2 separate regions of the Homo sapiens genome follow, and region 2 is reported to be linked to region 1. Evidence: microRNA targets listed by miRTarBase, many of them from high-throughput screens and not tested one by one. Region 1 holds a microRNA gene; the other region holds the end of a gene's coding sequence.

Region 1 (5,073 bases):
AGTTACATTTGGAAACCTGACTTGCTAATCTGCTGACCTTGGAAAATGTGTCTTTGTTGAATACAGAGCAGTAGTACCTGGGCTGGCCCTGTGTGACTTAGAGCGGACAGTATGGGAGGTGGAGAACTGGGTGCATGGGAGCCATTAGATCAAGAATTGGAAATTCCTCACAAATAAAAGGTTTCTGGGGTAGGAGCAGGGGGCAGTGTTGATGGTGACTCTGCTTGGATTATCTTCTAGGGATGGAGGATTGCCAGCTCCATTGAATGGAAGGACTGGTGATGCGCAGCCACTCTTGCATGTGCCCGGGCAAAAGACAGTGTGTTGGTGGCAAATGCCTAATGTGTCTATGGCTGACCATGGGCCATCTCTGCCATTCAAGACATCAGCTCCTGGCAGAGTTGTATTGGTTTGATAGAGCTTTAGTCTTCGGAGTCGCACAGACCTGAGTTCAAATCCTTCTCTGCCATTTACTGTAATAATTGTGTTCCTTAGGCTGATCCTTTAGCTCTCAGATCCTCTTTTTCCTTTTCTCTAAAATGATGTGGTTGATATCTGCTTTTGAGGTTGTGAGGATTTAAAATAACAGGTAAATAGGTGCCACACAGTACCAGATACTTAGTTGGGTGAGTAGCCTGGTGATCTGTGGCTGTTAGCTCTTTGAAGGCCAGTATCCCTAGGAGATAGCAGCAACGTCAGCACTGCTCTGATTCCCTGACCAACCCCCAACCCCACCTTTGCCCTCAGAAATACCCTGGACCCTTGTTTCCTTCCTCAAGTTCAGACCCCAGAAATGTTGGGCAAGAAGGAGCCTCCAGGCCAGGCTTTATTGTGCCAGATGTTATATCTGAGTAAGCAGGATTGTTACACAGCAGAGATACAGGAGCAGAGCAGGTAGCTCAGGCAGCTGCTGATGAACAAAAGGCTTCTTCTCTCTGTTCCCAATAAATTGGTCCTTGGGGATCCTAGCTTTGAAATTCTAATTGACACAGGAAGGAAAAGATTCATTAGGCTCTGGACTCGTTAAAATGCTCTGCTGCTCACCTACGATTTATTCTTGGCACTTCATCAAGAGGAATTAAGTAAACCAATGGGCTGGGAGGCTCCTGACAGCAGAGTCGTGTGTCTCTCGTGCTCCTGGGGGGATGAGAGTGTTGGGTCTCCTATGCTATGGAGCATATAGCTGGCTTTGGAATCTCCTCATCCCTAGGACTTCACATGAGTCTAAGTCTCATATGCTTTTAACAATGGAGGGACCTTCTGAGATCATACTGTGTAACTCATTTATAGATGGTCCAAAGAAGAACTGGGACTTGCTCAAGATCACGAAACGCATTAGTAGTGGAGTTAGAATTAGAATCAGTCAGGCTGCATGACTTCCAGGTCAAGAATATTTTCTCTGCGGCCGGGCGTGGTGGCTCACGCCTGTAATCCCAGCACTTTGGGAGGCTGAGGCAGGTGGATCACGAGGTCAGGAGATCAAGACCATCCTGGCTAACACGGTGAAACTCCATCTCCACTAAAAATACAAAAAATTAGCCGGGCGTGGTGGCGGGCGCCTGTAGTCCCAGCTACTCGGGAAGCTGAGGCAGGAGAATGGCGTGAACCCTGGAGGCAGAGCTTGCAGTGAGCCGAGATCGCACCACTGCACTCTAGCCTGGGAGACAGCGAGACTCCGTCTCAAAAAAAAAAAAAAAAAATTTTCTCTGCATCACCTTTGGATTTCTACACCCAGTGTTTCATTCATTCAGCCTTCAACAGATACTTTTAACACATTCTGTGTGCCAGGACTCTGTGATAAACAAAACAGCCATGGAGGAAAGTAAATACCTGACCCAGTATTAGGAGAGATTAGAAAGGCCTCCAAGTCTGAGAGATGGATAGGAATTAGCTCAGCAAGGAGAGATGAGGAAGGTTATGGCTGAGGAACTGGCATCTATGAAAGCCAGATTCAGCTTTCCCTTCAGAGCCTGGCTTTGGCATCTATGAAAGCCAGGCTCTGAAGGGAAAGTTGAATCTTGCTAGAGTGGAGAATTGAGGAAGAGATGAGATGTTAAGGCAAGCCGAGTCTATGAGGTTTGGGCCACTGTATGGTTGTAAAGAACCCTGGATCTGGGATTAGGAGTCCTGAGTTCTAGATATGTTTCTGCTACCAATATGTTAGTCATCATTCTAGTAACACTTCACATCTTTTAGGTGTGCCATGATGGGCACTGGGGTACAAAAATGTGTAAGATGTATGTAGTCCCCTCCCTCAGAGATCTGTCAGTTTAATGAGGCAAGCAGGCTAATTAAGAACCCCTGTAGTAAAGGAACAGTTACCTCTGCTGTAAGAAGTCAGAATTGAGCTGTGTGTTACTTTAAGCACTTTCTCTGGGCTTTGATGATCTCACCTGTCAAATGGTAAATAACCACTGTCCTATGTAGCTGGTAAACTGATGAGAAGACAGACAACTTTGTAATGATTGGCGTTTGTTTGGCATTTTGTGGATTTCAAAACACTTTTGACATCATTAATTCATTGAACCTTAACTGCAATCTTATGACTTAGGAAATTTCCCCACAATGTACAGATGAGGAAACTGAGAGAGGTTGAGGCTTGTTCATAGTTTCACAGCTTTTGATTAACAAAAGTTAGGATTATAAATCCAAATCCCGTGCTCTTATTTTGAAAAGTATAAAGATGGCAACCTTTCTTTCTATCCCCTACTTAGTGGCAAATTATCCCCTTCCCCTTTTCACAGTCACCAGAAATGCAGAGAATGTCTGCTGTGTTTGAAAAGCAGATCTAAGCTGACTGGGGAGAAAGAAAGGAGCTTATTTCAGGTCTTCTTCAGGCTGGACTCTAAACTTTTAAGATCATGTGCGCCCGTGCTCCCATCAGCTCCTGCTGTTCCATCTCATGCCATTTACAGAGTGCCATTTACTGAGCCACTACTTCATTGGCTACTCATAGCAACTTGTGGGGTAGACAAAGTGCACTTTACAGATGGGCAAACTGAGGTCCAGAGTCCCTGAATTGTACATGTCAGAACCAGGATTGAATCTAGAAGTCTTGGGCTCCTGACACCAAACAGGTGCTCTTAACTTGCAGAATGTAGGTTCCTTTGATTCAGTTCGGTTCAAACAATTCTTGAATATAACCCATGTGCCAGAGACTTTGCTATGCAAGAGAGCCTCTAGTTAGGCTCAAACCGTCTTGGTCTAGTGCCTTACTTAAGAACAGGGACTTGTATTATTTACTTCTCTGTCCCCAGGCAGGACCTTGATCCAAAAATGCTTTGCTGTTGTTTTTGGCCTTAATCTGCCAGAAACTAGAGGGAGCAGATGGCCACAGCAATGTGGGTTATGAGGATGTGATATCAGGCAGGGTTGAAGGATGAATTGAGAGCCCTGCACCCAACTACTTCTGTGTCTGTGCCTAGGCCCTTGTCAGGGTAGTCTCTATCTGAGAGTGTAGCTGGTCAGCCTGGTCCCATTTCTCATTTCCAGTCACCTCCCCCTCTTGCCATCCCATATAATGGGGTTAGTCTCCTGGACAGATCTCATACAGAGGCTGCTGGGATCTGCTGTCCAAATGACCCTTTGGACCTATTTCCCAGCCATGTTCCAAGATGATGGTGAGGAGTCTAGCCCCACAGCCAGTATGCTATCTCTATTCAGATAACTCCCAGCTCACAGGCCTCCCACCAGGCTCTCACCCACTCTGATGTTTTCACTCCTGACTCCTAAGAAGCAGATTGGCAATTTAGTGTGAGTCTGTCAGACAGCCTAGAGAGTAATCAATACTGAGAGAAATGGACATATTTCCTGTTTATTCAAAATCCTGATGAAAATTTTAAGGAGCACTATTTGGGAAGGGATGACTGGGAACCTTGCAAGAACAAACAGCTTAAAATTCATGAACAGAAATAGCAACGTTTATTCATGATGTTTCAAATGCCCCTAATATTCACATCTTTATATATTACAGACCCCTTTCATACGTGTTACTGCTTTTGAACCTTAGAGCAACTCTGTGAGGGAAGCAGTGTAAGGATTACTATTCCCACTTGACAGTTGAGGAAACTAAGGCCCAGGAAGCTTTAAAGAGAGTTAGGGACCATCTGATAGTCATGGTGGCAGAGCCCAAAACAGAACCAAGATTTGGAAAATGAGTACTCCTGGGTTTGAAATCTGGTGCTCGCCACTTTCTAGTTGTGTGACCTTTGGCAAGTTACTTGGCCTCTCTGAGCTCAGTTTCCTTCTCTGTAATACGAGGATAACAATGTCTACTCCTTATGGTTGTGTATGGATTTAATGATATAATTAATGGAAAATGCTAGCACAGTACAGAACATGTGTTAGGAGCTTAGTAACTGCAGGTATCCTATCTCATAGGATAGCGTTTTCAGTATATTGCACTCTGAGTCTTTGAAATTTGATACTTTTTTTTTGTTTTTGAGACAGAGTCTCGCTCTGTTGCCCAGGCTGGAGTGCAGTGGCGTGATCTCCGCTCACTGCAAGCTCCGCCCCCTGGGTTCATGCCATTCTCCTGCCTCAGCCTCCCCAGTAGCTGGGGCTACAGGCGCCTGCCACCACACCTGGCTAATTTTTTTTGTTGTTGTTGTTGTTTAGTAGAGACGGGTTTTCACCGTGTTTGCCAGGATGGTCTCCATCTCCTGACCTCGTGATCCAGGTGCCTTGGCCTCCCAAAGTGCTGGGATTACAGGCGTGAGCCACTGCGCCCAGCCTGATACTTTCACTACAGTAAAATGGACTACATATAATAAATTCTCATTAACCAGAGTATCATTTAAATGCCTCACTAGGTTAAGAGAACTGGATAAGAAGGGAAGCAGGGTGCTCCAGGCACTGGCTAAGTACTCCTGATGCAAATCACAGTAGGTTAGAGCTGACAGGGACCCTAGAGATCTGTCCCAGTGTGTCTTCCTCAAATTGTGTCTTCCTCAGAAGAGATGTTAATAATTTGGGAAACATCAGATTGAATAATGCTAATAAGTAAATTTCTTTACCGCTGCCTTTGCAGACCCTTATTGTGTGTGTCTCTTGGGAACGAGTTGAGAGTGCAAT
Region 2 (5,067 bases), not on the chromosome of region 1:
ATACCCACCGGGTGTGCTCCCTGGGGTGGCATCAGTGCTGAACGACCCCGAGCTGAGCGAGGTGATCCGGCCCACCCCAACGGGGATCCCCGAGTTCGACTTGTCGAGGATCATCCCCTCTGAGAAGCCAAGCAGCACCCTCCAGTACTTCCCCAAGAGCGAGAACCAGCCCCCCAAGGCTCAGCCCCCTAATCTGCATCTCATGAACCTGCAGAACATGATGGCGGAGCAGACTCCCTCTCGGCCTCCCAACCTCCCAGGCCAGCAGGGCGTCCAGCGGGGGCTCAACATGTCCATGTGCCACCCTGGACAGATGTCCTTGCTGGGCAGGACAGGCGTGCCCCCACAGCAGGGGATGGTGCCCCATGGCCTGCACCAGGGGGTCATGTCCCCTCCACAAGGCCTCATGACCCAGCAGAATTTCATGCTGATGAAGCAGCGGGGCGTGGGGGGCGAGGTCTACAGCCAGCCGCCCCACATGCTCTCCCCGCAGGGCTCCCTCATGGGCCCCCCGCCCCAGCAGAACCTCATGGTGTCCCACCCCCTTCGGCAGCGCAGTGTGTCCCTGGACAGCCAGATGGGCTACCTCCCGGCACCAGGCGGCATGGCCAACCTGCCCTTCTAGAAGTCGCTGCCAGGGCTGGAGCCGGGGCAATGTTGCAAATACGATAACCTTAACAAAGTTCTTCCCCTCAATGTTGGGATGGCCTGGGTCGCGGGGTGGGGTGGAGGGGGTGGGAGGGGGCTTGTGTAGGGAGTGGCATTTGTGGAAACCAGATGTGCTGGCAGCTTAGGGGGAAGTGGCAGTGTGGGGTGGGGGATTTTGCATTGGGGTTGGTTCCATTTCGGCCACCAGGACTGCCCCTCCCCCACTCCTCCCAATTCCTATGGAGCCTCTCTATTTTACCTCTTTCCGTGCATCCCTGCACCCGCCACACCCCCTTCAGCTATGCTTTTGGAGTCCTGGATGGGAATCTGGGGGGAGAGAGGAAGGACAGGTCAGGTCTCCCCCAGCCCCTTCTGCTCCTGTCTCCTCGTGTCCGCATTGCTGGAGCTCCACCTCCCTCTTGGTTTCTCCGCACCCGCCCATTTTCCTTCTGTCTTTACCTGCTTCGTATCCTTTCCCTGCTGATGTGGCTGACCCCTCTCCCACCCCTCCCTGCAGGCGGCTGGCCAGGTGGGCAGGTGCCAGCCGGAGCTGTAAATAGAGCGCTGCGCTTTTGTGCTGGTTTGTGCGTGTGCTGTATTTCTGTGTTTTGATAGAAGTCACACAAAAAAAAAAGGATAAAAGAAACCCTTCCCCCCTTCTTCAAGTTATTGCTCCCTCCATTCCCCTGGACCCAGGGACATGCAGCCCTACATGGCCACCCACTGTTTGCAGTGTCTCTGGGTCCCTAAGGGATACCATTCCTGTCTCGTCCCCAAATGGTAAGATGACGTAAATGACCCACTCCTAAACTGAGGTCAGACCACCTAGGCTTCCACCTGGTGAGCCCTAGCAGGGCTGAGACCCCCAGGGCGGCAGCCTGTCTGCTGCTGAGTGATTCAGGGAGAACATGTGTGCACGTGCATGTGTGTTTGCCCACACCGGTGACACGGGGCCCTGGCTTTCCACTTTGGATGCCCGGGCATCCGCTGCTGCTACATCTTAGCCAGAACTTGAAGTCTTTTGTCCCAGTTTGGGATGAAGGAAAGGAGGAAGAGGCGGTGGCTGTGTGGCCCCCTTGAGTGGAGCCATGGAAGGGGTGGCATGGTGCCACTGGGGCCTGTGGCTGTAGTAGCCCTGGGCCAGGTAACCTCCAGGGCCCTGACTTTTCCAGAGGCTGCTGCCACCTACTTCTTATCAAAGAAGGGGGAGAACAGTTCATCTGAGTCAGTGCACCTCCCCTCCAGTCTCCACTCCCTGAGGATGGAATCGGGGAAACAGCATCCTGCCGCCTCCTCTCTGCCTGCCCACTCACCGGCAAGGTTGTCCCTCTGCCCAGGGCTCAGGGCCATGTACCAGATCTGTCTGTGCCCACCCAGGCACAGCCACTGCCTCCCCCTTGGCTCCCTGCTCCTACCCAGGAGAGCTCCCTATCCGCCTTTGGTCAGAGCTGAAGCCATATACGACTGGGTGTTTGTCCCCCTACTTTGGCCCCAGGAGTAAAAAAACTTCTCCTTTTCTCACTTCCTTTCCTGCCTCGGGAGGTGGCAGGGCAGTTCCCTGGCTGAGGCCTTTTGCGCCCCACCTCCAGGACCAAGGGCCATTCTAGACAGGGTGTCTTCTACCAGGACCCGTCCCTAGCCTTCCTGGCCTGGAGGGCCTGGTCTTGCACTGGCAGCTGTAATACAAAGGGAACTCGCCCCACTTCTCCCAGCCTGGTGCTGTCCTCTCGGCCCACCATCGGCCAGGTCCAGCGCTTCCTCTGGGGCTGACAACAGGCCCCTGACTCACCCCGGTCACCTCCCAGGGTCCATGGCCAGGGCCTCTGTGTTTGGGGGGCCACTTGCCCTTCATCCTGCCAGGCGCTTTGCCCGCCCTGCCTCAGCCTGGGCCCTGTGCCCTTGAGCCCTCCACCCCTGGCCCAAGACCCCCCCAAACTGTCTGACTCTGTGTTTCCTGCCCTGAGGAGAGAGGGGTCAGATTGCAGCGGGCCGAGTGCCCTCTCCGTCCCCTCTCCTCCCACCCACGCCACAGGCCAGCCTACTCTTCCCTCCATCCATGGCCACACCCCCAGCCATTTTGTACCATTATATAAATATATATATAAATATAAATATATAAATACAATATGTGAAGACATCTTCTTGGTTTTTATTTTGAAACAATTTTTAGGCTTGTTCCGGGGGTCTCTGTGCTGCCTGTACTGTATTGACCTGTTTTATAGGTGCCTTTTTATTAAAAAGAAAATTCAAAATCCAGCCTCTTGCCTCTTTGCATCTGCTTCAGACTCCCCCATCGATTACCCAGCTTGCGAGGAGATACTCAGAGAAAAAAGGGACGTCTTAGGGCTTCCTCGTTGTCCTGCCGTGAAGACACTCTCACGTGAGCCACAGCTGTTATTTCCCCAGTGGGGCCTCCCAAGGAGCTTGGCTGCTTGGCTTGAGTGGGACAAGGGCAGGGGTCCCTGACTCCCCACCTGATCAAAGGCTGGGGAGGTGGTAGGGAGCACCCAGAACTGCCGGACGGGCCTCCCACACCCCAGGTGAGCAAACAAGCACGGAGCAGCTTCCTGCGGTTCCATCTGAGTGACATCCTCACGGGGGCAGGGCACGGCTTCCTGGGGCCTGGGGACTTCCCTGCCTCAGTGTGTTTCTTACACTTCCCTGCCTAAGGTGATGCCACGGAGGGGATGGTTGAGATGACTCCCACGGGCCCCTTCCAGTCCACCTTTCTCCGTTCCGACTCTGAGTTTCCTCGGGTCTATAGCTTATGGGAAGGGAGTGAGGAGGGGACAAGCCAGCCTCCTTCCCCATCAATGCCCACAACCTCCCATCCCCTGGACCCAGCCACCCTAGGAGTTCTCCACCCCACCCCATCTCGCCTGGCGGAGGGGACCGCCGGGTTTGATTGATCCATCTCCCTCCTTGGGGTTCGGGAAGAAAGCTCTTTTCTTCCCTCTGTCGGGTTTCTTTCTTGCTTCTCGGCCTTCACGCTTCCTCAGGTCACTGGCTGGCCTCCAAGGGCACCTAGAGTCAGCCCTGCCTGCAGACCACCCAGGATCCGGTGACATGGGGTGGACCCAGCGCTGTTTCGGTCAGAGCCAGGGGCAGCTACCTGAACTCAACCAGTCTGAGCTTCCTGCTTGGTCAAGATGACTGCAGGCTTGGGGGCCTGGCAGAATGTCTGTGTTTTTAGGGACTGAGTTGTCCGAAGGCCACACTCTGCTGCCAGCTGGCCTTTCCTCAGCCTTAACCTCCACTCATCCCCTGGTGCTCAGCTTCTGGCTTTGTTTGACAGGTGGGCAGGAGGAGAGAGGGGAAGCTGTGGAGGTCAGCAGCCCCTAAGCTGATGGAGTGTGTTCTGGGAGGGGCAGGCGCTCTCCGTTGGCAAGGGCAGAAGTAGAAGTTGTTTCTTGAGCATTGGATGATTAGGATGGGAGGTGCGTGAGGTTCTCTCAGCCCAGGGGGGTGCAGATGGGTAAGGACAGCCTTCACTGTGCCTTTGAGCTGCTTTCCGCTCCCTGGGCTCCAGCCTAGCCCCAGGGCCGGCAGAAGAGCTGGCAGGGATGTTCTAGAAATGGGGGTTGGTTCCTCTAGCTACCCCAAATGAGGATACTCCTAGGACACTCTTAGCCACGGTGAGCCCTTAGGATCCCAGCTCCTGTTGGAAGGAGCATCCAGCATCACTGCCTGCCCCAAGGAAAAGCAGCAATAAAAGGGGACACTGGGACCTAGAACGTGGTGAGAGAGGTGGCATTCTCTGACTCAGAGAGACTGCTCCTGCGCCAGCTAGGGAAGAGCTGGCACAGGGAGGCAGGGCCGGTACAGCCCAGCTTCGTCAGGAGCCGCGACAGGTCACTGCGGAACTTCACGCCGGCGAAAGTGTAGAGCATGGGGTTGAGGCAGCAGTGGGCCAGGCCCAGGAACTCACACATGGTGATGGCCACGGGGAGAGAGCCATTCAGCTTGCAGGTATTGTCCACGGCCTTCAGCCTCGCCAGGGTGTCCAGGAAGATGACGATGTGGTAGGGTGACCAGCAGAGGAAGAAGATGCTTGTCACCAGGATGGCCACCCTGACTGCCTTCTGCCGCTGAGGGCGCCGCTGGGCCTGGCGCAACCTGTGCACTACCCCCACGTAGCACCAGCCCATCACCAGCATGGGCAGCAGGAATCCCGCCACATGGTAGAGGAATCGGGAGGTGAACCAGGCATGCGTTTCTGCTTGGTTCTCTTGGGAGAAGGTGCAACGTGGCAGGGAGTTGTTGTGATGGCCTTGGCTGACTTTGGCGAAGAGAATCTCTGGCAAGGCAAGGAGGAAGCCCACCAGCCAGATGGTCCCACAGGTGATGTGGATGGAGAGGAGGCGGCGGTGGCGGTAGGCATGGACGGCGTGGACAATGGCCAGGTAGCGGTCCACGGCG

What was found. Region 1 holds the annotated microRNA hsa-miR-4755-5p (UUUCCCUUCAGAGCCUGGCUUU, at 1,957-1,978, shown strand). A microRNA usually pairs through its seed, bases 2 to 8, with sites in the 3' UTR of a target mRNA and lowers its output. Matches are read on the target gene's strand: a 7mer-m8 pairs with bases 2 to 8, a 7mer-A1 pairs with bases 2 to 7 and ends in A, and an 8mer does both.
Region 2: miRTarBase lists BCL9L as a target of hsa-miR-4755-5p. Seed matches in the 3' UTR shown: 7mer-m8 at 2,335-2,341.

The regions. Positions count from the first base shown.
Region 1 is chr20:34,047,172-34,052,244 of GRCh38, forward strand. MIR4755 (microRNA 4755) reads left to right here and starts at 1,948; the gene lies at 1,948-2,019. All of the region lies in intron 2 of RALY (RALY heterogeneous nuclear ribonucleoprotein), which reads left to right.
Region 2 is chr11:118,893,973-118,899,039 of GRCh38, reverse strand. BCL9L (BCL9 like) reads left to right here. Exons shown (of 10, transcript NM_001378213.1): 10 at 1-2,904. The coding sequence ends at 625. It overlaps CXCR5 (C-X-C motif chemokine receptor 5), which reads right to left. Exons shown (of 2, transcript NM_001716.5): 2 at 1,253-5,067. The coding sequence ends at 4,377. Among named protein-coding and RNA genes, the nearest start is that of CXCR5, 13 kb to the right of the region's middle. RefSeq lists enhancers at 391-898, 2,518-3,276.